Homo sapiens: one gene and its partners. Each later gene encodes a partner of the first gene's protein in a complex. Each region holds a gene or a part of one and is shown in the gene's direction. Other genes may lie near its edges.

Region 1 (10,432 bases):
CCCAGCTACGCGGGAGGCTGAGGCAGGAGAATGGCTTGAACCCAGGAGGCGGTAGTTGCAGTGAGCCGAGATTGCCACTTACACTCTATCCTGGGCGACAGAGGGAGACTCTGTATCAAAAAAAAAAATAAATAAAGAAATGGGGAATACTGCAGCTCTTCTATTCACAAAAAGTGAAGACTAGGCTTGTTTAAAATGAAATTTGGAGTGTATCATTATTACTGATAAAATAGCAAAAATGATAACTTTTAATACTCATTTTCCTCTGTCTGAACTATACTGAGCCTCAGAGATATGTTGTACTTTCTGGAATGTGAATATTAATGAGTATTAAGAAAAGCTCTTAAACAGCCTCTTTCAAACTGGGCAGCTTACTTTTTGGTGCTTATTAATCTATAACGTGTTAACATCCATATGATCTGGGAATTTGAAGAAAATACTTAATTTCCCATGCTTTAGTTGGATATTACATTCTGGCAAAAAAGGTTGACTGTATTAATCTGTAGAACATTGATTTTGAACCATATATTTCAAAAATACATGAGCCGTGTATTTTTATTTTTGAGACAGAGTCTTGCTCTGTCACCCAGGCTGGAGTGCAGTGGCGCGATCGCGGCTTAATGTAACCTTCGCCTCCCGGGTTCAAGCAGTTCTCCTGCCTCAGCCTCCCAAGAAGCTGGGATTGTAGGCATGCACTACCATGCCTGGCTAATTTTTGTATTTTTAGTAGAGACAGGGCTTCACCACGTTGGCCAATCTGGTCTCAAACTCTTGGCAATCTGCCCTCCTTGGCCTCCCAAAGTGCTGGGATTACAGGCATGAGCCCCTGCACCTCACCTTCCTGTATTTAAAAAGTTTATTCTGTACTTTCTCCGTGTTTCTGACTGTCGCACATTTATTTAATATAGATGAGTAAGGCTGTAAGGGTGGGTCTTTGCATCTGGATTTTTCCGAAGACAGATTATTTGCTATCTAGAGAAGTAGCATGTATTAGTGAGCCAATAGTGAAAGTTTGAATGAAGGGACAAATATTTCATTCCAGGATCCTACCACTTTAGGTGAATCACTTAGCTCCAAATCTTAGTTTCTTTATTTGCAAATTGAAATCATGATAAAATTTGCTTCAGGGGTTATGATGCTTGTTTAAACTCTGTTTCAATTCTTGTCTCTTGCTGGTCCTTAAGTCTCTTCCTTGCTCAGAGCTTTTGTTTATCCAGGCAAAGCATCAGGCTGCTGTAATCAAGGAAGTTGGAGAAATCCTCTGGTCACTTGGATAGCTGAGCAAAATCAGAATTCTGTTAGTGGGAAGAAAGGGGGCAATGGCAGGTGGGCAACCAGCATTTTCTGCCATTCTCTTGTTATGTGTGGTCATCATAGAAAAATGGGGAAAAAGTTAATTAGAATATTTTGATATGTATACTTACCCTGCCTTAGAAGGTAATCGTGAAATTCCTTGAGATTTCACATTAATTTCAATAGAAACAAATTCACTGTCCTGAGTCCCTGAATTAATATTTATGCAAAACATTTACAAATTCCTTCAAATGGACGTAATTATTAGTTAAAATTATTTGCTATAACAGGCCAGCATGTCTTTGTCACTCTGTGTCATGGCTTTGTAATAATATGGTTATGCAGTATGGCCATATAAGCTGCCTAAATTCACTGTTTTTGTATATCCTTCAACTACTCACAAGGCCTTCCTAAGATATTCAGTGCTCATAAAGTTGAATCTTTCATGTGGAAAAAAGAGGGGTGGATAGGAAAAACAAAAGAAATCACTGAACACCATGCAGAAGATGCAGAAGATTAACAGACTAAACTAGCAAACCGCAAGACTGTAAGGAGAACTGACTTGGGTCAGGAGCTAAGCTCCCAAAGTCCAGTGGACCCAACTAGAGGCCTTCCCAAACTCCACCGCACACAGCAGCACCTGCAGGTCCTAGTTGGTCTTGACAAATTTGAGGAGATGTGGCTGAGACTGAAGAAGAGATACCAAATAGGACTCCTCATAAAGTAGAAACCTTTTACTCAAAAGGGCATTTTTCAGGGCATGTTGTAGTTCCTGCCTGTTTCTTTACTGTCTGTGACCTTTTTTAAATATTATTAAACATTCTTTCACAACATCGCTTTTGCAAACTGCTAGATATATTTCAGTGTTGATGGGCATAACTGATTCTCTCCTCTGTACATGCTAAGTGTTTTACCTACTTTTGCTGTTCTATGTAATGCTACCAGGAACAGCTTTGCACATAATCTTTATCAGCATCTCTGATTTGATCCCTCAGAGTAAAGAAATACTGAGTCAAGGAATTATTCCTTTCAAAAAAATAATTTTAATTTTACATTTAATTCATGTCTATTGTGGAAAATTTGGAAAACATAGTAAAAGTGTAAAGAAGAAAGTAAAAATCAACCTATCATCAAGATACAATCCTTGTTAACATTTTGGTGTCTTTATGTCTTTTTTATCTGTACTTATATCTTTATCTATTTACATATATATATATATAAAACACACACAAATGTGAATATAATTTTTACAGATTTATTCGTCAAAAACAATTTTGAATGGCTATATAATATTCTGTTAGGAGTGTGCCGTAATTCATTTAACAATATTTTTATTTTTATTTTTTTGGACAATTAAATAGTTCTCTTTTTAAAATAGTTATTCAATTGATGATGGGCCGGCATACGTTGGGTTCTGCTAGGCTCTGGAGATGGTGCACAAGACAAGTTTCCTGCCTTCTGTGAACTTCATGAGAAATAATTCTCAATTACAGTACTGTCTTACCTATGGAAGTGTCTAATGGGAAGACTTAGGATGGCTTCCTTGACAAAATGACAGTTCTCTGACACCTAACCAGGCAAGAAGTTGGAAGAATATGGCCTAAGAGGGTGGGGCGGATGACCCTTATGGAATGGGGAAGGCTTCACAGTTCTGCCTGCTCCAGTGATGTGTAGTGAATGAAAAAGGAGGCCTAAAATCAATGTTATCTTTTATGCCCTCTGTCTCCACCCGCTCCTACCTCATTCTCACTAGGATTGGTCAGTAGGGCCCTGCTGACAGAGTGATCCCAGCTGAGAATGTTGGCATTCTCAAAGCCCAAGGAAACAACACCCGTGTGGATAAACACATGTGGGCGGCTGGGCCAACCATAGCTAGAGACATAAAGCAGGCAACAAACGTGTTTTCACAAATATATACATATGTACATATATACGCATATACAAATATATACATATACGTATATACACATAGACAAATATAGCTATATATCTACATATACAATATATGCATACACACATACAAATATGTGTATATATACACACATATACATTTTTATATCATATATTATATATTACATATATACATATACAAATATATGTATATTTATACGTATACATACATGAACGTATACTTTTTTTTTCTCATAATCCTTACCACTTCTGTGAGGTGGTCATTATTGTTTCACTTTGCAGATGAGGAAACTGAGGCATAAGTAAGTGCCCCAAGGTCACAGGTTGGTGAGTCACAGAGCTAGAGTTCACGCTCATAGTGGAGGGCCCGTGCTCTCGGAGCTATGGCTCCTGGTCTCTTACCTCACGCGTGTGCCTCACCCCACCCCTCAGTCTTCAGGCCTTCATCTAGGCAGCCCCCCGCCTCCACCCACTGCCCACGTCCCACCGATGTAGTTGTTTCCTGAGGCACTTCTCTTGTTTGGTAATGTCTTATGTCCTAGGAAAGAAGGCCCATAGGTGCTGCTGTATGAGCTTCCTCCGCTAGACAGAGCTGGCCCCAGCCTTTAGATGAGGTGTAGAAGGCTGGTTACCCGGGTCACCTGTAGCCGGCCACTGTGCAACACCATGGGCAGCCTAGGAGTTTCCAGAGTCCCCTCTCCCCAAGGTATTTCTTTTTTCATTTTTTAACTCCCTGCCCTCCAACATTTTATTATGAAAAACACCAAGTCTGAAGGTTACGTCCACCACGACTATCGTCTTAACACCGCTTGCTTCATCGTGTAATTCTCCATCTCCTTTCCCGTCATCTGTCCGTCATTGTCTGACTTTTTGATGTATTTCCAAGTACACATCAGTACACATCTCGAAATACTTCAGCATGCATACCATAGCTAGAGTTCAATATGTTTACAGGTTTGTCTTTTGATGTAAAATTTACCTGCTGTTGTTGGGAGTACATCTGCTGAGTATGGGCAGATGCGTATGCCTGCAACCCTAGCCCCCGTTGATATCCTACAACATTATCATCACCCCAGAAAGTTCCTTCATGCCCCTGCCCACTCAGCCTCACCGTGCTCACAGGCGGCCAGTGTTCTTTTTCTGACACAGATTGGTTTTGACTTCTGAACCGTCATATAAATAGAATTACATAGTATGTATGCTTTTGTATAAGGCGACTTTCACTTATCACGTTTTTGCATTTCGTTCATGCGGTTTTCATTCATGTGTATCAGTAGTTCATTTTTATTGCTGAGTAGTATCCCATCGTGTTCATACACCAGTGTGTTCACTCATTCTCTTACTGATGGGCAGCTGTTTCCAGTTTGGAGCTATTATAAATAAAGTTGCTATGAACATTTTACAAGTGTTTTCCAACATACGTTTTCATTTCTCTTGGGATTGGAATTGCTGGGTCATAGTGCAGGTGTTTGTGGTTTTATAAACAAAATAAATGCCTATGAAATTTCAATGAATATTTTATGCCCCAGAAAGAGTATTTTTCATGGTCTGTATCTGGATGTAGATATTTATTATTTTATTTTATTTTAATTTTTTTGAGACAGAGTCTCACTTTGTTGCCCAAGCTGGAGTGCAGTGAGTGGCATGCGATCTCGGCTCACTGCAACCTCCGCCTCCCAAATTTAAGCAATTCTCCTGCCTCAGCCTCCTGAGTAGCTGGGATTAGAGGCGCGTGCCACCACGCCTGGCTGATTTTTGTATTTTTAGTAGAGACGGGGTTTCACCATGTTGGCCAGGCTGGTCTTGAACTCCTGACCTCGTGATCCGCCCGCCTCAGCCTCCCAAAGTGCTGGGATTACAGACGTGAGCCACGGCGCCCAGCCGGGATGTGGGTATTTCTGGAATACAAAACATCCATAGCCCTCCTTTTACTCTCAAAGCAAAACACAGACACGCACATTCACATGCACACACCAGTGTGTCCGTGTCCTGTTGGTTTGCATGGAGTTTCTGTTTTGCCACGAAGCTTTTTGCCAGCCCTTTTCCCAAAGTGTTTGTACCATTTTATACTCCCACCAGTGATGTTTGAGAGGTCTGGTTGCTTCACATGTTTGCCAGTGTTTGGTGTATTAGTCTTTTTAGTTTTGGATATCCTGGTAGTTGTGTAGTGGTGTCTCCTTGTGGTTCTCCATGGGTTTTTATTCTATATTTCAGTTTGGGGAAAATGAATGAATGGAAGAAAAGAAGGGAGGAAGGATGAAGCAAATAGCTGTGCTTTGAGATCTGACACTGTATACTTCACAGCCCTGATGGACATTCTCCAAATTCTACTCCTTTTTCACATTTTCTTCTTAGAGTTTGCATTGTTCTTTTTATATTCTTCAGATTCCTTCTTTTGTTCATAATTACTTAAACCTATTCATTTTCTAATGCCTTTCAGTTGTTAATTTACTGAAGTTCTTTGGTGCTTACTAGTGCTGCTTGCTGTAGCTGCAGGGTCTGTCTCACAGTGAATTTTTTCTTTTGTGTTTTATAATTTTGGAAAGGGAGCTCATGTTAAATTTGTATTTGTAGGAATTCTGTCTGGCCTGGCTTGAGGTTGTTGTTTGCTTTAGCCTATAACCTCAGGATGGCATCAGCCTGTGACCACTTCCTGTGTAAAAGTTCATAGTTTAGGCGATCCTCTCAATTCAAAGTCTGTATCTATTTCAAGACAGGCCCAAGGTTATAAATTTGCACAAACTTTTTTTTTTTTTTTTTAATACCTTGTGCCCAGTCCAAGACAAATATGTTTGTTTGCCATGGGCTGCTTTTTTTCTAGTTCATCCTTTCATCAAAGGGTTGCACATTGAGCAGTGCCGTGTTAAGGGGGGATTCTTCATTCTACCTTCTTTTCTTGTATTCCTTGACCTCAGCTGGGCTTTAAACCTTGACTTCTGGATGGCGAGGTTGGCACTCCCCTGTGTGAGCTACTGCCTGCCTCCGGTGCTCTGTTTCTGTCCCTAGAGTTCTTTTCCTTTCCACGGAGTTTTGGTATGCATTTCAATGAATGTTTGTATTATGTTGTCCAACATACTTGTGTCCTTTATAGCTGGAGGGTTCTTAAAATTTTCTAATGCTCCATATTGCCAGAAATAAAAAGGCTGAGGGAATAAATATTATAGTCTTCTCTGATTCTTAAAAATATGAAAAATAGCTCATCAGATGACTGTAAGTCTATCCTCAGAAATCCAAGGCACACCAAGCATGTGGTGGAATGTTAACAAAAGTTTTTAAAAATGATCTTTTCTGCCAGGTACAATGGCTCACACCTGTAATCTCAGCACTTTGGGAGGCTGAGGTGGGAGGATCCCTTGATCTTAGGAGTTTGAGACCAGCCTGGGCAACATAGTGAGATCCCCCGGCCCCCCCATCTCTACAAATAATTAAAAAATCAGCTGGTCACGGTGGGGTGCACCTGTGGTCCCAGCTACTCAAGGAGGCTGAGGGAGGAGGATTGCCTGAGCCCAGGAGGTCGAGGCTCCAGTGAGCTATGATTGTGCCACTGCACTCCAGCCTGACTGACAAAGTGAGACCCTGTCTCCAAAGGAGAAAAAAAAAAACATATATATATATATATATATATATATAGTCTTGCCCTGAGGTTTTCTCTCTGTTTTCTTTACAGGGTACAGCTCTGCCGGGGGGGGAAAAAGTGGTACCATTTTGGGCGTTCTTGAGCTTCAGAATGCAACCAGACATGTCCTTGAATGTCATTAAGATGAAATCCAGTGACTTCCTGGAGAGTGCAGAACTGGACAGCGGAGGCTTTGGGAAGGTGTCTCTGTGTTTCCACAGAACCCAGGGACTCATGATCATGAAAACAGTGTACAAGGGGCCCAACTGCATTGAGTGAGTAGGGAGCAGGGGTGGGTGGGCTAAGTTCTGAGCGGGATGGGGACGTTGGCTGTTGTGGAGCCGTTGGCTGCTGCGGAGCCGTTGGTGGGTAGAGTGAGAGGGAGCCTGCCAAGATGTCAGGGTGACGATGGCTCTTCGGATTGTTATTGTCGCTGATGTGGACTCTGAGACTGGGTAGTGAAGGACTCTCACAGCTGGTAAGTAACAGAAGAGACATGAACAAGAAGGAAATAGAGAAAGACAAAGAGATAAGTGTGGTGGGGGGACAATGAAAAGGAAACAGGAGGATGGGTGAAGACAGACCTATTCACTCGCTTCACATTTTCAGTGAGGACCAGCCCTAAGTATAAAAATGAAAAGGCAGTTCATTCCTGAGAGGTTCTGAGAGCCTTCCCTTTAAAGCAACCAGTAGAGTGGTTTCACCTCTCTCCCTCCTTTGTCAGAGTGGTTTTGAGAGAGGCTGTTTTTTTTTTTTTTAATCGTTCTGTCCAGCACGGTCTTTTTTCAGGTTACCTTGCTGCTGTTCATGTACTTTTCATTCATTGATTCATTCATTCCTTCATTGATTTACATTTTTGGAGCATGCACTGCCAGTTACTGGGCAGGAGTACTGTGAGGAAGTGAGAAACCGCTCTGCCTTCTAACGCTTCTGGCCTGTGCCTGGAAGAGATCGGTACAGACCCAAGCATGACCCCAGCACGTGGGAGTGATGTGTTGGAGGTGTGCACCAGGCTCTTGAGGCGCTGGCTCTGCCAGCCTCAGCATAGCACCTTTCCTGCCCACAGGCACAACGAGGCCCTCTTGGAGGAGGCGAAGATGATGAACAGACTGAGACACAGCCGGGTGGTGAAGCTCCTGGGCGTCATCATAGAGGAAGGGAAGTACTCCCTGGTGATGGAGTACATGGAGAAGGGCAACCTGATGCACGTGCTGAAAGCCGAGGTAGAGAGGGCCCCTCCGCACGGGGATCCCCAGCGCTTGGGCCCTGGCTGTCTGTTATGGCTCCCCTTGGGGTGTTTGTTTGCAGCTCGTTAGCATCAAATTTGCAAATTGCTTGGTAGTTTGAATTTTCTTTTCCTTTTTTTATAGAGACAAGGTCTTGCTATGTTGCCCAGGCTGAACTCCAACACCTGGTCTCAAGTGATCCTCCCACCTCAGCCTCTCAAGTAGCTGGGATTACAGGCTGGATTTCCTGAAGTCAGTTTCTCCTTAAAACATCTATGCCTTGATTGGGCTCCGTGGGTCACTTCTGTAATCTCAGCACTTTTGGCAGGAGGATCACTTGAGCCTTGGTGCTCAAGACCAGCCTGGATAACACAGTGAAATCCCCTCTCTACAAAAAATAAAAGGTGCATGTGAACAGAGCAAGACCCTGTCTCTGAAAAAAAGAGAAAATCTTCCTTGCCTTTTACTGCCCTGAGAGTGGTCTCTTCATCCTCTCGATCCTGTGGACAGTCCTCCATAGTCTGTGTCTTAGGAATGTGATTGGCTGTTTACCATACCTGTCCGCTGCTCTGCAATCTACAGTTCAGAGACAAGCCCTGTCTTCATGATGCAGACATCATCTGATGTAGAGTATATGCATGATGGGATGACATTAAATATGGATTAATGAAAGGATATACACTATAAATGACCGTGAGAGCAGATAGAATATTAGTGGTTGCACTTTGATACCATTCAACAAAGTTTTATTTTAAATTAAATATAGAAATTATTGGCAACAACACTGGATAGGATTTAAAACAAAAATAAAAATTGTTTACCAAAGTCAAATGATTTGAAAACATTTTTAAAAGCTTATGTGCCTGTTAAGATGAAGGCCTTGCGCTAGTTGCTCATGAATCAATAGCTAATATGACGTAGGAGAGTAAAAGGAGGCAGATAGCTAAATAAGTGGTATGGTGTGATGGGGTTTTTTTTTTTTCTTTTGTAAGAGAACAAGGTCTCACTGTGTTGCCCAGGCTGGAGTGCAGTGGCACAATCATAGTGCACTGCAGGCTTGAACTCCTGGCCTTAAATGATCCTCTCACCTCAGCCTCCTGAGTAGCTGGGACTATGGGCATGAGCCACTGCACCCAGCTGTGTGGTGGTATTTTTTTTTTTAGAGGAGTCTCGCTCTGTCGCCCAGGCTGGAGTGCAATGGTGCAATCTCGGCTCACTGCAACCTCCACCTCCCTGGTTCAAGCAACTCTCCTGCCTCAGCCTCTTGAGTAGCTGGGATTACAGGCGCCTACCACCATGCCTGGCTATTTTTTTAATTTTTAGTAGAGACAAGTTTTCACCATGTTGGTCAGGCTGGTCTCGAACTCCTGACCTCGTGATCCGACTGCCTTGGCCTCCCGAAGTTCTGGGATTACAGGCATGAGCCACCGTTCCCAGCTGATGGTGTTTTGATAGACATACTCATTGCTGAGGGAGTACACATGAGAGGCACCCACTCAGCCTGGAATAGACAGAAAAGGCTTCCAATGTGAAGGACATGTAGACGTTTTGAAGCAGAGAATTAGAGAACAAGTGTTCTAGGCAGAGAGAATACCATGTAGAGACTGCCAAATTTGGGGAACTGTAAATTCCTGGGTTTGGCTAGAGCATAGATTGCACAGGGTATGGGGAGGGGTGGCGGGATATGGCTGCCTTTATGGCAAATACTCCCACTTTTCCACTTTCTTCTCCCACCCCACAATTGCCAAGCCAACAGACATCTCACAAAAATACCCTTGGGAAGGAGAAGAGGTGATCACTTATACGCATGGTATTATAGTTTGATCAGATTGCTCTCCACCCCAGAACTAGAGAAGATCAGCTGTTTGAAGTAAACATTTTGATTGGGAAATAAGTCTTTGGTCTCCCATCCAAGTACTAACCAGGCCCAACCCTGCTTAGCTTCTGAGATGAGAGAGAAATCATTGGGGACATGAGGCATTGTGCAAGATGAGGGAAAGTTCAGGTGCACCTGTTTGGACTCAGTCAGGGCATCAGGAGGACCTGAGAGAGAAGCAGAAAGAGAGGAGAGAGGGGGACCAACTTTGCTTACTCAGAAGTTTTTCCTAAGTCCAAAGGTATACCAAGGAAGAAGAGAAAACATCTTTTCTGCTACTTTCTGTATGGTGGTGATCAAGCTATTAACAGTGTAGCTCTGCTACGTTATGTCATAAATATGGTTTGAGGGGGAATCTCACTTCTATCATTAAAATTTTTTTCCTGTTAACCAACGACCAAAATACATATACATTTTTAGGAAACATCTTGTTTGTATACTGATTTTTTATTGTTAAGCAAAACTGTAATTTAACCACTATAATAGAAACTGGAATTGTTTCTGTTAGTA
Region 2 (11,154 bases), on another chromosome or scaffold:
CTTTGCACCAGGCAACAGACATCCAATACTTCTCAGCAGAGAAACCAGAGACCCTCGGTTAAAGCCCTCTCTCCTCAAGACCACAGGCAGGGAGGGACACACTGCCTTCCTCAGTCACTCCCTCAGAACAGTTGTCTGGGAGAGAAGAGAGAGACCTGAGGGCTGAGTTGTTAAAAAGGCCCTAGGACGGAGGGGTGGGGCTGGAAATTTTCAGGAGAAGGAAGAGGGAGCTATTTCATTGAACAGTAGTTAAATCCATTTTCTCTGCTCTACAAATAAATTGTGAACCAGATATGTTCTTCATATTGGAAACACAGCAATGCTTATTGTGATAATACCTATCACCTATTGGGCATATAATATTTGCCTGGAATTATGCGGTCTTCTTTCTTTCTTTCTGTCCATCTGTCTTTTTTTTTTTTTTTTTTTTGAGACAGAGTCTCGTTGTGTCACCCAGGCTGGAGTGCAGTGGCTCAATCTCGGCTCACTGCAACCTCCACCTCCTGGGTCCAAGCAATTTTCCTGCCTCAGCCTCCCAAGTAGCTGGGACTACAGGCACCCACCACCATGCTCAGCTTTTTTTTTTTTTTTTTTTTTTTTGTATTTTAAGTAGACACGAGGTTACAGTATGTTGGCCAGGCTGGTCGTGAACTCCTGACCTCATGATCCACCCGCCTCGGCCTCCCAAAGTGCTGGGATTACAGGCATGAGCCACCATGCCCAGCCTCCTGTGGTCTAACCTATTATCATGCTGAGCCTTGCTATGTTCTTTCATCCTCATTTCATTTCACCCTCAGAACAACTCAATCCAGTAGGTGCTATAATTAACCAAAATTCAGAGAGGTTGAGTAACTTGCTAAAGGTCAAACAGCCAGTAATTGACAGAGCAGAAATCAACCCCAGGTAGACTGACTCCAGAGCTTATACCCTTGACCGTTAGGCTATACTTTACTCCCTGTAAATAAACAGCAGGACTCACCTGAGGTCAGGAGCTCAAGACCAGCCTGACCAACATGGAGAAACCCCGTCTCTACTAAATATACAAAAAAAAAAAGAATAGCTGGGTGTGGTGGTACATGCCTGTAATCCCAGCTACTCGGGAGGTTGAGGCAGGAGGATTGCTTGAACCCAGGAGGCAGAGGTTGCAGTGACCCAAGATCGCACCATTGCACCCCAGCCTGGGCAACAAGAGCGAAGCTCCGTCTCAAACAAAAAAAAGAAAAAAGAAAAGAAAAAAAGAAACAGCAGGACACCCAGCTAGGGAAGCAACATGAAGCAGTGGCCTGCTCCACTGGGGTGAGAGGAGCTGGGAGAGCACAGAAATTATATTTTGACATTAACTAGACAGTAAGAAAGAGAGAAGGACTCACACTGACAGAAGGGGCATTACGGTTATATGTGTGTGGACGCTTAACTTATAGCTGCCCAAAATCTTTTTGGTCCCACCATGGTAATGTAGAATCAAAATAGTTACCCTGCCCAGCCTCCCTTCCTTGAGGGTACAGACAAGTACGTTAAGTTCTGCCAAAGAGACGCTCTGGGACGCAGATCCAAAATGCGGTGTGAGGAAACAGATTAAGCACAAGGATTCCATTTTGCTAGGACGGTGAGCGCAGGTGGGATAGGAGAGCTAAAGGTATGTGGTTCTTTGTGAAAGCATCAGCCCCTCAGCTCTCCTAAGGAAAAGCAAGTAAAAGGGGGCTTCAGACCTGCTTGGAATCCTAAAGGAGAAGAGCAATACTTGGGCCCTGGAGGAGGCTCCCCAAAAGAAAGCATCTCAAGGATAGGGAGAGGCGGGTGCCACAGTGAATGGAGTCCCTATCCAAGTGGAAAGTTCTCCCCATTACTCTTCTCTCTCAAACCTGGGGTTTGTTTGGTGACTTTCCTGAGTTGAGTATAGCTCAGTCCCCAAAAGTGACAGTTCTTTTGCACATAGTTGCAACCTTTCCCCATGTGTGGAGGGTTTGTTTTCAGTAGCTGGGATAAGGGTTCCCCCATGAGCTGGAGCATCCCTGAGTCGGCAGGGGGTGGAAGGAAGGGGGCAGACGGGAATCCGCACTGCCACAGTAAAAAGAGGTTTCTTATTGCCGGGCGCGATGGCTCACCCCTGTAATCCCAGCACTTTAGGAGACCGAGGTGGGCAGATCACGAGGTCAGGAGTTCAAGACCAGCCTGACCAACATGGTGAAACCCCATCTCTGCTAAAAATATAAAAATTAGCAGGGCATGGTGGTGAGCGCCTGTAATCTCAGCTACTCAGGAGTCTGAGGCAGGAGAATTGCTTGAACCCGGGAGGTGGAGTTTGCAGTGAGCCGAGATCATGCCACTGCACTCCAGTCTGGATGACAGAGTGAGACTCCGTGTCAAAATAAATAAATAAATAAATAAATAAATAAATAAATAAATAAATAAGAGATTTCTTATCACTCTATGTTTACTATTCACCTCCAGACAAAAAATGAGAACTTTTTATTCTGTAAACCTTAGACAGTAAGTCCAACCTCCCTTGATTGTGAGGATTTACTGTGAAAGTGCTTTGTGAACCATCACATGTGGAAAAGACCAGTTGTTATCATTGTTGCTGGTGGGGGCGGGGAGGGAAAGGCCACTCAGCCAGTCTGGCAGTTGGACTCATGAAAGTTCACACTGTAGACTTTACCCTTGACTCAGAACATGCTCTCTGAGTGGAATCACCTCTATCACGTTATGTCTGTCAAAATCTTACCATATTGAAACTCCAAGACCTAATAACATCCATTAAATACCAAAGTGACCAGCAGGCTACTTACAATTACAAGAAATCAGGAGGGAGCAGCAAATAATAGACTGACGGGCTAGGGTAGTGGCAGGTGGGAGAGGGAAGCTGCTACATCTCTGGGCATGTCTTGGAGACAAAGAGGAAGCTGAACTGTAGAATTACTACACTCATTTCATGAACTCATTTCAGGAAAATTAGAAAATGCAGATAAAAATAAGACTATAAGTACTCACCTCAGCAGCACACACACTAAGAAAAAGATATGATTATAAAATATAAGAACATAAAAATCACCTATAAGCCCATCAGCCAGGAATAATTCCTTTAAACATTTTTCTATTTGTCCATTCATATATTTTTCTAAGCATATATACGTATACATACATACATTCTTTCTTCGCGGTGAAATCTGATGTTAAATCAAACAGCTAAATGTTTATTAATATAAATTTTCATATGTCCCTTTCTAATACTAGAATCATATTTTTAGCAGATCCTTTTGTGGTAAAATACACATAGCACAAAATTTATTATTTTAACCCTTTAAGTGTACAGTTTTGTGGCATCAGGTACATTGACTTCATTGTATAACCATTACTACATCGTTAGAACCTTTCATCTTCCCAAATTAAACTCTGTACTCACTAAACAGTAACTCTCCATTCTCTTCCCTCAGCCCCTACAAACCACCATTCTACTTTCATCTCTATGAATTTGACTATTCTAGGTACCTCTTATAAGTGAAATCATACGATATGTGTCCTTTTGTGACTGGCTTATTTTACTTACCATAATATCTTCAAGATTCATCCACATTATAGCATGTGTCTGAATTTTATTAAGGTTAAATCATATTTTTAAGGCTGAATTATATTGTATGGTATGTATATACAACAGTTTGTATTGGACCGATCCATTCACTTATTGATGGACATTTAGGTTGTTTTCACCTTTTGGCTGTTGCGAATAATGCTGCTATGAACATTGGTGTACAGTTATCTATTTGAATCCATGTTTCCTATTCTTTTTTTTTATTTTTATTTTTATTTTTTGAGACAGAGTCTTGCTCTGTCCCCCAGGCTGGAGTGCAGTGGTGTGATCTTCGCTCACTGCAACCTCTGACTCCTGAGTTAAAGCGATTCTCCTGCCTCAGACTCCTGAGTAGGTGGGATTACAAGCACATGCCACCATGCCTGGCTAATTTTTGTATTTTTAGTACAGATGGGATTTCACCATGTTGGCCAGGCTGGTCTCAAACTCCTGACCTCAAGTGATCCGCCAGCCTCGGCCTCCCAAAGTACTGGGATTACAGACATGAGCCACTGTGCCTGGCCTCAATTCTTTTAGGATATACTCAGGGGTGGAATTACTGGTAGCAGATCTTTTTAAAAAATTAGTCCTGGCCGGGACTGTCACCTCAATTAATACCATTTGGTCTGTAATTAGAATCTCTTAATCAAACAACGGATAAGAATTAAGACTAGAATATGCAAGGAGACCACATAGATCCCCCACAACCCGCTACCCCTACAACAATTAGGGAGAGGGAACCAGAGCTCACAGGAGAGATGAACTGAATGTAATTAGAGACAATCAGGAGCAGGGAACTGAAGGAATAAGAAATATCCAAGTAAGGCTGGACGTGGTGGCTCACACCTGTAATCCCAGCACTTTGGGAGGCCAAGGCAGGTGGATCACAAGGTCAGGAGTTCGAGACTAGCCTGGCCAACATGGTGAAACCCCGTCTCTACTAAAAATACAAAAATTAGTAGCTGGGCGTGGTGGTGCATGTCTGCAATCCCAGCTACTCGGGAGGCTGAGACAGAATTGCTTGAACCCAGGAGGCAGAGGTTGTGGTGAGCTGAGATTGCGCCATTGCACTACAGCCTGGGCAGCAAATGTGAAACTCCATCTCAAAAAAAAAAAAAAAAAAAATTAGCCAGGCATGGTGACACATGCCTGTAATCCTAGCTACTCAGGAGGCTGAGGCAGGAGAATCGCTTGAACCCGGGAGGCGGAGGTTGCAGTGAGCCAAGACCACACCACTGCACTCCAGCCTGGGCAACAGAGCAAGACTCCATCTCAAAAAAAAATTTCATTTAATTTAAAAAAAGAAATACCCAAGTAGGCTCCAAAAGCATGGGACATCTGTGGTCAGAGGCATCAGTCCTCAGAAAAGACCAGAGCTCAGAATTCCAAGAATCAGCCTCTGCCTAGGTCCACCCCCATACCCCCTTGCTGGAAGCTGAGGGTCCTGTTAGGCACTTAGTCTAAGGTTCTTCTCCCTGCTCTTCCTTCTTTTAAAGAGGCTGTTTATTTTGAGTCAAAAAGTAGTATAGGCCCTGATACCACACCCAACTTTGTGCTTCACAGTGGTTTATCCCTCATTCTCAGGGTCTCGTCACAATCTGAAGAAACCCAGTTATAACACCTTTCCAAATCCTTTCTGCCTGTTCCCTTCAAGTGGAGATACTGAGCCTGGGTTATTCTCTCTAAAAAGAATCACAAAGGGAGTGGCTGCCCCTTTTGATGGCTCTCAGCTTCTGACTCTAGGCTTTTCTGAGGACCTGCTACACTTCTTGCCTTCTTGGATTCTGTGTGATACCACCATATCTCTATACTAAAGCCTACTTCAGATGGATTTCATGAACTGTGCAGGTGAGAGCCCTCAGTCCCTACAGGAACCCAATCACCTCTTTCCTCCTACTGAGTATGGAGCTCCATCTAGGATGATCAGTGCCTTAAGAAAGGCTCGATATTTTGGGTTGTTCATTTATTCATTCAATTCAACAAATATTTATTGGGTATCTGCCATGTATTGGCTTTTAAGGAGACTACGGTTGAACAATTCCCTAAATAGTTCCAAAATAGCATGAACTGACCCTGCTAGAAGCCATGGTGTGGCTCTCCAAGAGTTGTTTTAGAAAAAACTACAGATCACTTCTGCCTCAACCAGCAGAGCCCATGGACCACTGAACAAAATGGAAAGCAAGTACCAAGGTGAGCACCTTTAGTGAGAGCCAACGCACAACCCACAGGATTGAGTATCCCTGTGAAGGATTGAGTGCCTAGGGCAGGCCCTATCGGGTTCCCACAACCTCCAGTCATGGTCAGACCTCAGAAAGGTAAAATATGGACACCTTTTTTCTGCCCTAAATCTTTAAGACTCTCCATGCTTCTGGGTTATCAAAAGACTGTGTCCAGAGCATGTGCTTGTCAGGAACATTAATTAGGGTATTTGCATGCAAGAGTTGTCATGCAAGGGAGAGGGCAGGAAAGCTCTGAGGTGTTTCCACTGTAGTGTACACCACAATGTCACCAACCCTCTGGATGGGCTGATAAATCTAGCCTTACCACAATGCCCTGGGAGTGGGCTTGGGGCCTGCCACCTCCAGGAGCTCCTGTTCAAAGGGCATATAAGTCCCTATCAATGCCAAAGACTTGCCTCGCAAGAGCAGCTATAGGGACTGGGCAGGAATACAGATAGGGATCCTTCACTACATTGTTGGATGCTTCACACCTTTCCCAGCCACCTGCACGACCAGCTGAGTGGTACAGCCCTGAAGCCTATGTGAAAACAGGATAACTTGATGGTTCAGAGCCATTATTTCCATATGGGCTTAGGCAAGGTACTTAAACTCTCAGTGTCTCAGTTTCCTCACCTATAGAAAGGTAATAAAAGCAGTACCTATCCCCTTAGGGTTCGTGTGAGAATTAAATAAGCTAATATATATACCTGGTGCATGATAAGTTTTATATACGTGTTGGCTATGATCTTAGGGCAGCTGTGAGAGAGCTGAGCCCTAGAACCATAAAACCCTCCTAAGCACCATCTCCACTCATGGCCTGGCAGGTCGTGGAGCAGGAAATCCTGTGGGAAAAGGGAAGGCTTTGACTGTAGGAGTGGGTTGATTGTGGGTTCCTGGAAGGTGAGGACTCCTTCCCTAACATCCTCAATGCCCAGCAACACCTAATCTGGCTGCGGCAGGTGCTCAGGAAACGCTAGTCAAGGAGAAAGGCACTAGCTTTCGCTCTGCCCCCTGCCCCACCCCAGGGGCGGGACTGTAGAGGCGCCTATAAGGGAAGTTGTTCAGTCAACTCGGAAAAAGGGTAACAACCCGGAAAGTAGACTCACCGTCTTGGTCTAGAGACTGACCCCTGCACAGACAGACCCCTTCCCCTCTCTGCGAAAGGACCAAGCCCCAGAAGTCACTCCATCTCCTACGGCTCGCAATTTCCAGAGGCCCCCTGGCACCTTCCAGCCTGATGTCGTGCGTCAAGTTATGGTGAGTAGGGAGTGGCATGTCGATCGCAGCCTCCGACATTCACACCCAGAGAGCCCCACAGACTCGCTCAGAGAACGTCTTTGAGTCCGGGGACGGTGGGGGCCGGCGAGGGAGGCTGGGGATTGCAGTGAGAACGCCGAGTCACAGGGGCGCGGGGAGCAGCGCTGAGGCACGGCACGGCCGGCTAGTGGGCGACACCCCTCTCTCAGGCCCAGCGGTGCCCCCGCCCCCTTGGTGTCCATCGAGGAACTGGAGAACCAGGAGCTCGTCGGCAAAGGCGGGTTCGGCACAGTGTTCCGGGCGCAACATAGGAAGTGGGGCTACGATGTGGCGGTCAAGATCGTAAACTCGTGAGTGACCCCGGTTGACCCCAGCCGCAATCTGGCCAAAAAGGTGGAGCCACTGTGCTCTGGGGCCTGAATGGCGAAGGGAGGGATTTTCCCACGACCCCGGTGCGACTCCAGCTCTCTCCTGGAGTGTAGGAAGGCGATATCCAGGGAGGTCAAGGCCATGGCAAGTCTGGATAACGAATTCGTGCTGCGCCTAGAAGGGGTTATCGAGAAGGTGAACTGGGACCAAGATCCCAAGCCGGCTCTGGTGACTAAATTCATGGAGAACGGCTCCTTGTCGGGGCTGCTGCAGTCCCAGTGCCCTCGGCCCTGGCCGCTCCTTTGCCGCCTGCTGAAAGAAGTGGTGCTTGGGATGTTTTACCTGCACGACCAGAACCCGGTGCTCCTGCACCGGGACCTCAAGCCATCCAACGTCCTGCTGGACCCAGAGCTGCACGTCAAGGTCAGCTGGTCTACACCCCTCTCAGCCTCAAGACAAGGCCCCAGAGCTGCTCCAGCCAGGCCCGCCGGACACTAGACCTCCAGAGCCCTGTCTATTGAATAGGCGTAGCCTCTCTCTCTGGACACAGGGCTGCCAGGGGACAAAGCCCAGCCAGGAGTTTTAGCTCCTGCCTACCAGGTGATAGAGGCCCTGAGCCACACGAGTCATTTCCACCAGCTGCCCCACCAGCCCCTCCAAAGAGTCATGGCTGACCCAGCCCTGGAGACTCAGACCTTGACCTAGCCCTACCACAAGGCACCTAGATCTACCATCCAAGGGAACCTCTTCCCTTGACCTCCACACTCCCTTTACAAAGCTGAACCTGCACCTTCTGGGGGCAGGGGGGTTCCTGGAGGCTCTCTGGCCCCCTTGTCTTCCCTACCTCCCACTTCTTTCCTTCCTTTGCAGCTGGCAGATTTTGGCCTGTCCACATTTCAGGGAGGCTCACAGTCAGGGACAGGGTCCGGGGAGCCAGGGGGCACCCTGGGCTACTTGGCCCCAGAACTGTTTGTTAACGTAAACCGGAAGGCCTCCACAGCCAGTGACGTCTACAGGTAAGGATCCCGGCCCAAACACACAGCCAGGATTCCTACACTTCTCTGGGCCCTCCCAGGGGATGATGTATAGGAAAGGAGTCTTGCCAGTGATTGGACCGATCCTCAGCTTTGTGTCTCCTGCAGCTTCGGGATCCTAATGTGGGCAGTGCTTGCTGGAAGAGAAGTTGAGTGTAAGACTCTAGGAGGATTCTGGGATCCTTAACCCCAGGTGCCCTTCTCTTGAAAGCCCCAAGGCTTCCCCTTCCCGCTCACCTACTTAGACTGCCCTCCTCCCTCCTCGTGCCCCCACATTACACTCCCTGCCTCTTTCCATGATGAAGCAGATAATTCCCTTTTACCCTGAATGCCTTCTCTTCTCACCCTCCTCCCCTACTCCAGTGCCAACCGAACCATCACTCGTGTACGAAGCAGTGTGCAACAGGCAGAACCGGCCTTCATTGGCTGAGCTGCCCCAAGCCGGGCCTGAGACTCCCGGCTTAGAAGGACTGAAGGAGCTAATGCAGCTCTGCTGGAGCAGTGAGCCCAAGGACAGACCCTCCTTCCAGGGTGAGCTGGCCAGTTAGCTGGATCTAGGATAAGCTTGGGTCTGTCAGCAGGGGGCTTTTCTCAGGAAAAGAAGATTTGCTCACCTGCACTCCACTCTGCTGTCCCTCTAGAATGCCTACCAAAAACTGATGAAGTCTTCCAGATGGTGGAGAACAATATGAATGCTGCTGTCTCCACGGTGAGTGCCAACATCACCCCTCCCCAGGAGCTGGTCAGGGATGGCACAGCGTGGCTACCTGGCCATCCAATGACTCACCACTGACCACTGCTTTTTATGCCTTGACCTTTGTACCCACCGTCCCCAGCCCACCCCTGAGTTCCCAGACAACAGATTATGGACCGAGAGACTACTCCCTTGGGTTTACTCTGGCTCATCCAAGTCATACCCAGCAAACTCCTCCCATCCCTGCAGGTAAAGGATTTCCTGTCTCAGCTCAGGAGCAGCAATAGGAGATTTTCTATCCCAGAGTCAGGCCAAGGAGGGACAGAAATGGATGGCTTTAGGAGAACCATAGAAAACCAGCACTCTCGTAATGATGTCATGGTTTCTGAGTGGCTAAACAAACTGAATCTAGAGGAGCCTCCCAGCTCTGTTCCTAAAAAATGCCCGAGCCTTACCAAGAGGAGCAGGGCACAAGAGGAGCAGGTTCCACAAGCCTGGACAGCAGGCACATCTTCAGATTCGATGGCCCAACCTCCCCAGACTCCAGAGACCTCAACTTTCAGAAACCAGATGCCCAGCCCTACCTCAACTGGAACACCAAGTCCTGGACCCCGAGGGAATCAGGTGAGACATTGACAGGATTAGGGGATGCACTAAGAGTCCTATAAATGCTGTCCCCTTGCCAGCGAAAACTTGGGGCTGAGAGGAGTGCAGTGGGAGTGCCAGGCTCCAGGGCAGAACTGGATGCTCTGTGCTGTTTGCAGGGGGCTGAGAGACAAGGCATGAACTGGTCCTGCAGGACCCCGGAGCCAAATCCAGTAACAGGTACCCATTCTCTACCTCTTTCTTTTCCCTGTTCAATTCTTCCACCAGACTCCTCCTCCAGACCTATATCTAGATTCAGGGTACTTTGTGGAGGGGAGGGGAGAAGATGATCTAACTCAACCTTCTCATTTCATAAATGGGAAAACCGACACCCCCTGAGAAAGGAGCCCTCTGAGGTCACACAACAAAGCTTGGATTTGTCCCTGAATCTTCTAACTTTCCACAACACCAGCTCTGTGAGCCCCCTAAGTTCCATTGTTTCAGCAGTCCAGAGGACCTCCCAGCAAAAAAGATCAGGGTCTCAAATGTCAATTGCCACTCTCTAGAGCTTCTGCTAACACAATTCTGGAGAGGAGCTCTGAGGGGAGGAGCACAGGGCACACCTTGACACAGCCACTGACAAGTAGAGACTTCATACTCCCCACCCACCCCCAACTTGGCCTTTCTGACAGCTAAACCCTCCTGCCACCATCACTATTTCTCTTAAAGGGCGACCGCTCGTTAACATATACAACTGCTCTGGGGTGCAAGTTGGAGACAACAACTACTTGACTATGCAACAGACAACTGCCTTGCCCACATGGGGCTTGGCACCTTCGGGCAAGGGGAGGGGCTTGCAGCACCCCCCACCAGTAGGTTCGCAAGAAGGCCCTAAAGATCCTGAAGCCTGGAGCAGGCCACAGGGTTGGTATAATCATAGCGGGAAATAAAGCACCTTCCAAGCTTGCCTCCAAGAGTTACGAGTTAAGGAAGAGTGCCACCCCTTGAGGCCCCTGACTTCCTTCTAGGGCAGTCTGGCCTGCCCACAAACTGACTTTGTGACCTGTCCCCCAGGAGTCAATAAACATGATGGAATGCTAGTCAGTCTGAGCTCAGCCAGGGGCAGGGAGGGACTGGGATGGGGGTGGGAGCTGCCAGTGAGGGATAGGGAGGCACCACAGCTCTGCTATGGCAGGAAGTGGGGATGCTGGGGGCTGGGAGTGGGCAATGGCCTGGCACACAAGGTCAGGGCACAGCCGGCTACAACAGGAAGGAATCCTAGAGGCCTGGTTCCCCAGACCACTCTCTAATCTCAGGGCAGTGCTTCCTCTAAAGCCTAGGATGGCGACCCCACCCTAACCCTAAACTCTGGGGATAGAGGCTGTGGTCCCTTTTCTTCCGGGCTCTCAAGACTCACTTGCAGGGCTC
Region 3 (10,432 bases), on another chromosome or scaffold:
GCTGTGGCTCTCTCTCTTACTAGCTTATTTCCAAGCCGTGATTTTTCACAACAGAAAAATGGGGACAGTAATAGTAGTTTCTTCAGAGGCTTTTAGTGAAATGAGGTTAAAAAATATTTTTATGTTTATATGGATATATAGATTACAAACATTTATATATCATTTATTTATATGATTATTATAAACACATATTTATATTTAAATACTTTGGGGCATAAATATATAAAATAATAAATATACTTATGTAATACAAATAGACTTATATACATTTACTATTTAGCAGAGATTATATAAAATATATGTATTACATGGCAACATATTCAAATTTACATATGTTATATATACATGTGGAAAAAAAATTGGGAAAAGGCCACAAAATGTGACCAAAGAATTACTTCCAAATGGCAAGTTTTTAAGTAATTTTTATTTTCTTTTTATACTTCTCTGTACTTTCTCTATGAAACAAGTGTTACTTTTACTGTTTTTAGGAACCAAAAATACAAGTACATTGTTTAAAAAATACTAGCTTAACAAAGTTTCTAGCCCATAAGCTAGTGCAGAAAATCTAGGTCCCATAAAACAAGAACTGCCACACGATGTCTCTCCCCTTACAGTGCTGGATGGCCCGTTGTTAATGGTGTCATAAATCCTTTGCAAGTGACTGTTTTCTAGGTACTATGACTAGAGGGATGTGTAACTTAAGCAAAAAACAAAAAACAGAAAAGGCTGACTATCATCTGACAGTGTATCCTGGAACACCTAGGCCAGAGAAGAAGCCACGTTAGCATTTTCCCTTCTAAATGTCAGTTATGATTTGATGGGGAAACCACTTAAAAAGCATTGTCACGTTGTTGAAAAGGTAATGAAATGAGTGAGATGAGATGGCTATGGAGGACGGAGCTATGCGCCAATCTTATTATATCCAAATTCATGTCATCTCAGCCTTGGATTGTATTGATTTTTATTATATACTGTCAGAAAATGCTATTGAATGTGTAACAAGAGCCTCAAAAAGGTTTATTCATTTTGACACCATAATACTACTTTTAGGAAATTATTCTAAGAAAATAATTAGAGGTATTCTTAAAGATTTGCGTTTTAAAGTCATCCTAAATGTAATCAGGAACTGGCTATGTAAATTATAGCCCATCTCTAAGATTAAGTGCCTTACAGATATTAAAACCCATGCTGTAGAAGAAAAACTAAAGACAGGAAAGTACTTACAATACAAGATGTACTTACCAGTGGAAAAATCCACTTATACTACAGAAATATGATGTGTTCAAATATAAGGAAAAATGTGTATGCATAAAATATTTGGTAGGAAAGAGTAAAATATTACTGGGCATTTATATTTGGATGGTGGAATTATACATAATTTTAATTTTCCTTTTTATCTTTTCTGTATTGTCTAAAATGAATACACTAAGCATTGTTATCCTCAGAAAAAAATAATTGAGGGATGGGGGAAAGGAAGTCCTGCTTTCATTTGATTCTTTGGTTGGTTTTATTCTGTAAGATGAGACTTTAACAGAGGTTAGAATGCATTAAAAATTGTAAAGACAGTTGACCTAATGGCACTAAACAGGGTTAGATCTAGTTTAGATCTTTTCCAGCATGTGAATAAGAATGGATCTTTAAATAAAGATTTTAACTAGGTATATGTTTTAGAATAAGTCATACATGTACATGGTAAAAATTCAAACAGTACAAACTGTGCAGCAAGGTATGGGAAATAAAGCAGCTCTCACTGTCACCTCCACCCATCAGCCTTCTCACACTGCACGCCCACATCTGTGTGTAATTCTGCTTTTCTTTAACATTACTGAAGGAACTTCCTGTGCATTTTTTGTCAGAGCTCTTCTGTGAATACACAAAATATGTACTGATCAATACATTATGTAGATCACGCAGGCTCAACCACATTGATCTTCCTATTCTTTCTAGTAGCCAAATAGAGTTCCCTGGAATATGATTAATAGCTTGCCTAAATCTTCTAATGCTGATAAACAGTTGTTTCTGCTCTTTCGTTATTTCAAGGAATGCTACCATGAATAGCCTTATATATGGTTTTGAGTATACTTGTTTAAGTGAATGTAGGAAAAACTCTTGGAAGTTAAATTGTGGGCCAGTTTATGTGAATTTTATATTTTGACAGAGATGGCTAAATTACCCACCTGTTTTTTTGTTTTGTTTTGGTTTTGGTTTTGCTTTTTTTTTTTAAGAGTTGGGGTCTTGCTACCTGGGGTCTTGCCACCTGGGGTCTTGCCCAGGGTAGACCTGAACTCCTGGGCCACGTTGGTTTATTTTACTGCATTCCCAGGGCCTAGAGCAACGATTGACACGTGCTAGCAGTATCTATTGGAAATTCTGGCCAACTTGCAATAGACCTGATTATTTCTACACTGAACATGTCTAAGATAGCTATTACTATTCATTCAGGAAAGCCCAGACAATTATCATGCCAGCAGCCTGAGACAGTAGCCAGTAATAGCCTGGTGTGGTAGTTTGCTCCTGTAGTCTCAGCTACTCAGCAGGCTGAGGTGGGAGGATGGCTCTAGCCTGGGAGGTGGAGGTTGCAATGAGCCAAGATTGCGCCCTGCACTCCAGCCTGGGTGACAGAGTGAGACCCTGTCTCAAAAATAAAAATAAGAATAAAAAATAAACCAGCAAAAGTTTCTGCCCTCACAGAGCTTCCATTCTAGTGAGAGGGTAGTTTGTCATCAGGAGGGTGACGCCGGTAGGGCTGGGGGCCAGCTCCCTGCAGGGAACAAACATGATCGCAGTGGGGTGGGAGTAGGGGATGAGTCCCCAGAGCCTCTGTGGTTTCCATTTCCACACAAAAAAACCACTGCTGCTGTAATCAGGAGGGGGAAAAGATTTTTAAAAATTTTCTTTCAGGGAATGGAAGGAAAGGATATTTTTGAAAGTAAGACTTTGAAAACTAAAAGTTTTGGGTCACTTAAAAACTCAAAATCTTTAGGTCACTTTAAAAATATTTAATCTTGGAGCTGGAGGCCATTATTCTAGGTAATTAGCTGGGTGTGGTGGTGTGTCCCTGTAATCCCAACTACTAGGAGGCCGAGGCAGGAGGATTGCTTGAACCTGGGAGGCGGAGGTTGCAGTGAGCCGAGATCGCGACACTGCACTCCAGCTTGGGTGACAGAGCAAGACTGGGTCTCAAAAGAAAAAAAAAAAACGAAAACTAAATACCGTATGTTCTCACTTAAAAGTGGGAGCTAAGCTATGAGGATGCAAAGACATACAGAGGGATATAATGGACTTTGGGGATTGATGGTGGGGTTGAATGGGAGGTTGGTCCTAATAGGTCCTAGTACGTCCCCTACTTCTAAGTCTTCCAGTCTGTCCTTTGCACTTTGAATGTTAATTCCAAGTTGGATAATGTCATTCTCATTTTTACAGTCCTTTCTTAGCTCCTCATCACCTCCAGGACAAAGCCTAAACCCCTCGCCCCATGGTAATGCGGCCCCTTTGTGACATGGTACCTGGCTAGAGCTTCATCCCTTTGTCCCATCACTCTCCATCCCAGACACTTTGTAGTTACTTTATTGAGCTCCTTGTGCCTGCCTGAATGGACTTGAAAGTTCTTACCTCCATCTTTTACATTAATTGTTTCCTGTAAGAATTGTGCTTTCTCGCATTCTCCCCAAAATCCCTTCCCCATAGGAAGCCCTTCTCCCAGGCTAAGTTAAGGTTTCTTCCTCTACATCCCTACCACACTCTGGTCACAACCCTCTAACCATTGGCTTGTTTTTTTTGTTTTTTGTGTTTTTTTTTTTTTTGTGAGACGGAGTCTTGCCCTGTCACCCAGGCTGGAGTGCAGTGGTGCAATCTCCGCTCACTGCAACCTCCACCTCCTGGGTTCAAGCGATTCTCCTGCCCCAGCCTCCTGAGTAGCTGGGATTACAGGCACGTGCCTCCACACCTGGCTAATTTTTGCACTTTTAGTAGAGACGGGGTTTCACCATGTTAGTCAGGCTGGTCTCAAACTCCTGACCTCGTGATCCGCCTGCCTTGGCCTCCCAAAGTGTTGGGATTAGAGGCGTGAGCCACCGCGCCCAGCCCATTGGCTTGTTTGTATGTCTACCTTCCTAAACAGTAAGAGGGAACTTGTCTGGTGTTCTTTTTTTCTCTCCTGTGCTGACAGCACAATGACCAGTACCTAGTAGTTGCAGTAGCCTTTGATGAACAAGCCAGCAAATGGTACTTTTCTTCCTTATCTGAACATACCATTTATTTTGACTTAGATTATATTCTCCTGCCTTTTAAAAAGATGGACTTCAGCAGAAATCTTTATGATATTGGGGAACAACTGGACAGTGAAGATCTGGCCTCCCTCAAGTTCCTGAGCCTGGACTACATTCCGCAAAGGAAGCAAGAACCCATCAAGGATGCCTTGATGTTATTCCAGAGACTCCAGGAAAAGAGAATGTTGGAGGAAAGCAATCTGTCCTTCCTGAAGGAGCTGCTCTTCCGAATTAATAGACTGGATTTGCTGATTACCTACCTAAACACTAGAAAGGAGGAGATGGAAAGGGAACTTCAGACACCAGGCAGGGCTCAAATTTCTGCCTACAGGTGGGTGGAAACTCCCATTGTGGGACTGGGAGGTGTGGGTTGAATGGACAGCCTCTGAGCTGATTGGGGCTTTTTTTTGTGGTACCCTGCCTAGTGCCTGGGAACCCAGCAGTGCCACAATTCTAAGCTTCTACAGAAAGACAGTAGTGCCTTGGGTGGTCCTGCTAAAGGCTGTAAAACTTAGCTTCTCCCCACCCTAGAGAGAGTGGGTAAACAAAGGCGTGAGAGAGAAACCACATTCAGTATCACTTGGGAGGCTTTGGGAAGATGTCCCACCGGAGCCAGATTAAGAAATTTAGGGGCCTTATATATAATTCTATAGAAATGCTAAGACCATAAAATAAAAATTTATTTTTCAAAGTGAAACATTACTTAGAGGTATGCTGAAGTTATAATAGAGTTTTTCTAAGTGTTCTCATTTTTTTCCTCTCTTATCTTGATGCCTCTCGATATCCAGATTGTGTGCTTACTTTGCCCATCCATTGAGTAAAGCATCATGGCTTCCCACCCTGAAATCCCCCTCCCACCTGCTTGCGGATGGCTATGAAAATTTTCAATGAGATTTAAGGGTTTTCTGCCACACTTAAAGACTCGAATGACTAAGTTCTTTACGGAGCTGTAAGCCGCTGGCCTGGCACATACAGCTAGGCAGTCTCCACCGAGGCTGCCCAGTTCCTGTGAGCCCGGCTGTATGACAGTTCTAAGCTTCTATAGGAAGACAGTGGCACGTTGGGTCATCCTGCCAAAGGCTGTAAAACTCAGCTTCTCCCCACCCTAGGGAGAGTGGGTAACCAAAGGTGTGAGAGAGAAACCCCATTCAGTTACAACTTCATGATGCTGTGACAAGACTTTAAAAACAGAAACACATTGTCACTTTCTCTCTTTCAACATCTCCTATTATCGGACACTACTTAAAGCAATTTTAGCTTTGCTTTCAGGAAACTTCTACTGAAGTCTTCGTTCTGGGCCCATTTCATTGTCTCTGTTTGCTTGTTGATAACTATGGCATGTGAGATGGAAAGGGTTCACAACCAGGGCTGACAGCTGCTGTCCTCTGATGGCTCAGCCCATGAATGCTCTGGTCTTTCTATTCTCAGAGACTATTTTTTGTTTTGAGGCTTGACTATTTTTTGTTTTGTTTTGTTTTGTTTTTGAGACGGAGTCTCGCTTCATCACCCAGGCTAGAGTGCAGTGGCATGATCTCGGCTCACTGCAACATCTACCTCCAGGGTTCAAGTGATTCTTCTGCCTCAGCCTCCTGAGTAGCTGGGATTACAGGTGTGTGCCACCATGCCCAGCTAATTTTGTATTTTTAGTAGGACGGAGTTCCACCATGTTGGCCAGGCTGGTCTCGAACTCCTGACCTTAAGTTATCCACCAGCCTTGACCTCTCAAAGTGCTGGGATTATAGGTGTGAGCCACCATGCCCAGCCAAGGCTTGACCATTTTGATTTTAAGTGAAAAAAGAGATATTCTGGGCCGGGTGAGGTGGCTCACGCCTGTAATCCCAGCACTTTGGGATGCTGAGGAGAGCTGATCACCTGAGGTCAGGAGTTCAAGACTAGCCTGGCCAACATGGTGAAACCTCATCTCTACTAAAAATACAAAAATTAGCTGGGTGTGGCGGCTCACGCCTGTAATCCCAGCTACTTGGGAGGCTGAGGCAGGAGAATTGCTTGAACCCAGGAGGTGGAGGTTGCAGTAAGCTGAGATTATGCCATTGCACTCCAGCCTGGGCAACAAGAGTGAAACTCTGTCTCAAAAAAAAAAAGAAAGAGATATTCTGGGTATATAAGTTTCCTAGGGCTGCTGTAACAAAGTAACACAAACTAGCAGGTTTAAAACAGTTTTTAAAATGTGTTTTCACAGTTCTGGAGGCCTGAGTCAGAAGTCAAGATGCCAACAGTGTTGGTTCCCTTTTAAGAGGCTCCGAGGAATAATCTTTTTCATGCCTTTCCCTGCTTCGGGTGGGTGGAGGAATCCTCAGTGCTCCTTGTCTTGTAGATGAGGCACAGCAGTCTCTGCCTATGTTCCCTTCTCTGTGTCTAAATCTCCCTCTTATGAGACAGTCACTGGATTAGGAATTAGGGCCCACCTAATCCAGTATGGCCTCATCTTTGTGTGTGTGTGTGTGTGTGTGTGTGTGTGTGTGTGTGTGTGTGTGTGAGACAGTGTCTCACTACATCGCCCAAGCTGGAGTGCAGTGGCATGATCTCGGCTCAGTGCAACCTCCACCTCCTGGGTTCAAGCAATCCTCCCACCTCAGCCTCCCAAGTAGCTGGGACTACAGGCACCCGCCACCATGTCTGGCTAATTTTTGTATTTTTTTGTAGAGATGGAGTTTCAAAATGTTGCCCAGGCTAGTCTTGAACTCCTGGGCTCATGCAATCTGCCCACCTCAGCCTCCCAAGTTCTGGGATTACGGGCATGAGCCACTGCGCCTGGCCAGCATGACCTCATCTTAATGAGATTTTATCTGCAAACGTCCTGGGTCCACATAAGGTCGCATTCTCATATTCCAGATAGACATGAATTTTGGGGAAGAGGGGAGAACACTATTCAACCAGTACACTAGATAGCTTTGGTTTACTAGCATTGTGAAGTCTTTATAAGGCACTTATTCATTAAGGCGCCAGTTAGTCCTAAAAACCCACAGCCCCAGAACAAGGAAAGCCGAGGGGGGTCTCATCTTGTGCCCACCATCTTGGTCCTTTGAAGGTTCCACTTCTGCCGCATGAGCTGGGCTGAAGCAAACAGCCAGTGCCAGACACAGTCTGTACCTTTCTGGCGGAGGGTCGATCATCTATTAATAAGGCAGGATCTCTCTTAAAATCTTTAATGTATTGGCTTAGAGATAAAAGGGTCCGGGCAATCCTGACTTACTGCTTGTTCATTATCATTGAATACTAGCCAGAAGCTAATAAATATGCTAGGGTGACCACTTACCATTATAAGAAAACACTAGACATTTTATTTTCCAGTTATAATTGCTACCTATAAAATAAAGATCTTATAAACTATTCAGGTTCATTACTAAATGGTGATGGTACAAGAAAGCCTATAGGCTTCAATAATGAGGAAAGCAAAAGGGTAAATACCTTGTAATAAAGGTGAAAGAGTCAGAGTAGCTTTGGATTAGATCCAATTTTGGCCAAACTGAAAGCTTTAGATAAACACTTCTAGGGTAGAGAGTCCATGAGAAGGGGGATAAGGCAGATGGTAATACTGAGTAATTTCTGTTTCTACGCCATTTTTATTTTCAGAATTTTACTTTTCTAATTAAATTTTAAAGTCAACGTGTTTTTGTATTAAAATTATTTTCCTTTACACCATAGTATTGAAAGGTTTGCTGACTTCTAAAACATTCCTTTGTTCACCTATTCGACAAGCATATTCCAAGAGCCTAAATGTGCCAATCACATAAATGTGATAGGCATAGATTAGGAAATAGTAACACCTATCACTCATTGAGCACTTAGTGTGTTGCCAAAGACTGATTTAAGTACTTCACATAAACTTATTTGTGTAACCCTCGAAACCTTCCTATGATGTGGTTACGGATAATTATCTTCAGTCTATGGACGAGGAAAAAATGTGTAACATGTCTAAAGTTAACACTGCTCAAAGATAGTGGAACCAAGGCTCCAACACCAATAGCCTGGGTCCGCTGAGCTCAATCATTGCACCTCACAACCCTCTGGGTTTATGAAAATAAAAAGGGTACGGACCTGGCCACTAGGGGACTTGAACAGTTTCTAAACAGACAATTATTTTCTGTTTTTATTTTTAGTGTGGTGGCATGATCACAGCTCACTGCAGCCTCAACCTTCTGGGCTCAAGTGATCCTCTCACCTCAGCTTCTGGAGTAGCTGGGACCACAGGTGCATGCCACCACACCCGGCTAATTTTTAAATGTTTTTGGTAGAGATGGGGTCTTGCTATGTTGCCCAGGCTGGTCTCAAACCCCTGGGCTCAAGTGATCCTCCTTCTGCCTTGGCCTCCTAATGCGCTGGAATTAGAGGCATGAACCACTGCACCAGGCCAACAGACAATTATGTGTGTTATCGTTTTGGGGTTACTAAGTCATAGTGGAGTGAATGCAGCTTTGAGGATGCTCAGGCAATGCTTGAGCTGATTGTTCATGGATGGGCCTCTGCAGATAGACAAGGGGATGGGGTGTAGCGGCACCACAGAAAGGGGTGAGGGCAGGGCAGCTGGGTGTGTTTGGCTTCAGGTCCTTTCGTGTTTGCGGTCTGGTCTGTGATAGGGATGTATTCGGAGACTTTGTATTCCAGAACCGAATGCTTGGCCGTCTTACTGAAGATAATGACTGGGAGAATACTGACCAGTTTTGATTAGGGAAGTCATGAGCCAATGTGCATTTTGAAAAGCATAATTTCCAAAAGGCAAAGCATTTTGCTATTGCAACAAAATCTCCATTTTACAGAAAAAAAAAAAGGAAAACAAGATTTACTCAACTGAAATAAACTGAAAGAAAAGTTGATAGAACTTTAAATTGTTAAGGGTGGGAAAGTCGGGGAGGAGCCAGTAGACTTCTGTGTCACCACACCAGCCTCTTTCCAAGGGCTCAACTCATAAACCATGCCATTAACTGGCTTTATGTTGAAGGGAGGCCTTTGGAATCAAGCCCACTGTGACTCCATATATCAAATGGGAAATTATTTGGGAAAAGATTTCTAAAGTGTCTCCATTTCCCACCACAGGGTCATGCTCTATCAGATTTCAGAAGAAGTGAGCAGATCAGAATTGAGGTCTTTTAAGTTTCTTTTGCAAGAGGAAATCTCCAAATGCAAACTGGATGATGACATGGTAAGACCTGGTATCTTACTGAGATTTAGTCCTGAGACTTGGTTAGCCAGGGGGCATTTCTGAGACCAAAGAGAGGGGTATTTTGGTAAAAGCAACCTGGATTCTCACTTTTTAACTAGAAGAAGAAAGTTGTCAGCACGAGTGTTACAGATGTGATTCCTTTAGACCGAAGTGCTGCTCATGTTAATTATTGGGAGCAAGGCAGAGTCAGAGGCCGGGAGAAGGAGGCTGTGCAGATGCAGCCCAGACCCGGCAGAGCTGGGAAAGACTGCGGTGGGTCTGAGATATTTCCTCCACTTCTGCAGTCCCCGAAACAACCTGGGACCTGAAACTCTGTGTGTATATTGTGTCTGTGTGTTGTGTGTGTATTTCCGTGTCTGTGTGTGCCTTTCTCTGTGTATAGTGTGTGTCTGTATTTGTGTGTGATATGTGTATCTCTGTGTGTCTCTGTATAAGTGGTGTGTGTGTCTGTGTATCTCTGTGTGTGTGTTCTCTGTGTGGTATGTGTGTCTGTGTGTTGTGTAGTGTGTATTGTATTTATGCCCCTGTGTGTGTATCACTGAGTATACTCTGTGTGTGTTGTATCTGTGTGTGTATGTGCATGTGGTGTCTGTGTGTGTGTGTCTGTGTGTCTGTATGTACTCAGGTCTGGAGAGGCAATGCTGGGGGTGAGGCTGTTCCCCAGGGTGTCACCATGATGACCGGGCTGCTGTCTCAGGTTGTTTCACAGTCCCCAAGTAATGCATTCGCAGGAGATTTGAGCACAGGGCCTGGGGACTGGGTGACATCTGACATGGCTTCTCCTTTATCCTCTCACTTCTGTCTTTCTGGGCCAGAAAACATGGAATCGCTTCCCTAGTAGCCTGCTGGCTGTGAGAGACCAGCAGAAACTGTCAGAAACTTGGGAAGCAAGGGCAGGTCCTTGGTTGGAGAAATTGGAAATTAAAAAAAAAAATCTAATCTAAAAACCAGTAGGGCTCAATCCAGATTCCCAACTTTATTT

What was found.
Region 2: RIPK1 (region 1) and RIPK3 share a complex: the UniProt entries of both Homo sapiens proteins name them as parts of the AIM2 PANoptosome complex.
Region 3: RIPK1 (region 1) and CASP8 share a complex: the UniProt entries of both Homo sapiens proteins name them as parts of the AIM2 PANoptosome complex.

What each region holds. Positions count from the first base shown.
Region 1 is NC_000006.12:3,069,893-3,080,324, forward strand, and holds part of RIPK1 (receptor-interacting serine/threonine-protein kinase 1), read left to right. Parts: intron 1-3,746; exon of another isoform or gene 3,747-3,910; intron 3,911-6,871; coding exon of another isoform or gene 6,872-6,931; coding exon 6,932-7,095; intron 7,096-7,886; coding exon 7,887-8,043; intron 8,044-10,432. UniProt on the Homo sapiens protein: Serine-threonine kinase which is a key regulator of TNF-mediated apoptosis, necroptosis and inflammatory pathways.
Region 2 is NC_000014.9:24,335,697-24,346,850, reverse strand, and holds RIPK3 (receptor-interacting serine/threonine-protein kinase 3), read left to right. Parts: upstream 1-6,859; 5' UTR 6,860-7,024; coding exon 7,025-7,044; intron 7,045-7,253; coding exon 7,254-7,394; intron 7,395-7,526; coding exon 7,527-7,836; intron 7,837-8,283; coding exon 8,284-8,429; intron 8,430-8,555; coding exon 8,556-8,602; intron 8,603-8,810; coding exon 8,811-8,978; intron 8,979-9,088; coding exon 9,089-9,156; intron 9,157-9,390; coding exon 9,391-9,765; intron 9,766-9,905; coding exon 9,906-9,966; intron 9,967-10,455; coding exon 10,456-10,676; 3' UTR 10,677-10,826; downstream 10,827-11,154. UniProt on the Homo sapiens protein: Serine/threonine-protein kinase that activates necroptosis and apoptosis, two parallel forms of cell death. Necroptosis, a programmed cell death process in response to death-inducing TNF-alpha family members, is triggered by RIPK3 following activation by ZBP1.
Region 3 is NC_000002.12:201,262,193-201,272,624, forward strand, and holds part of CASP8 (caspase-8 isoform 2 precursor), read left to right. Parts: intron 1-4,268; coding exon of another isoform or gene 4,269-4,294; coding exon 4,295-4,599; intron 4,600-7,317; coding exon of another isoform or gene 7,318-7,413; intron 7,414-9,323; coding exon 9,324-9,429; intron 9,430-10,432. UniProt on the Homo sapiens protein: Thiol protease that plays a key role in programmed cell death by acting as a molecular switch for apoptosis, necroptosis and pyroptosis, and is required to prevent tissue damage during embryonic development and adulthood.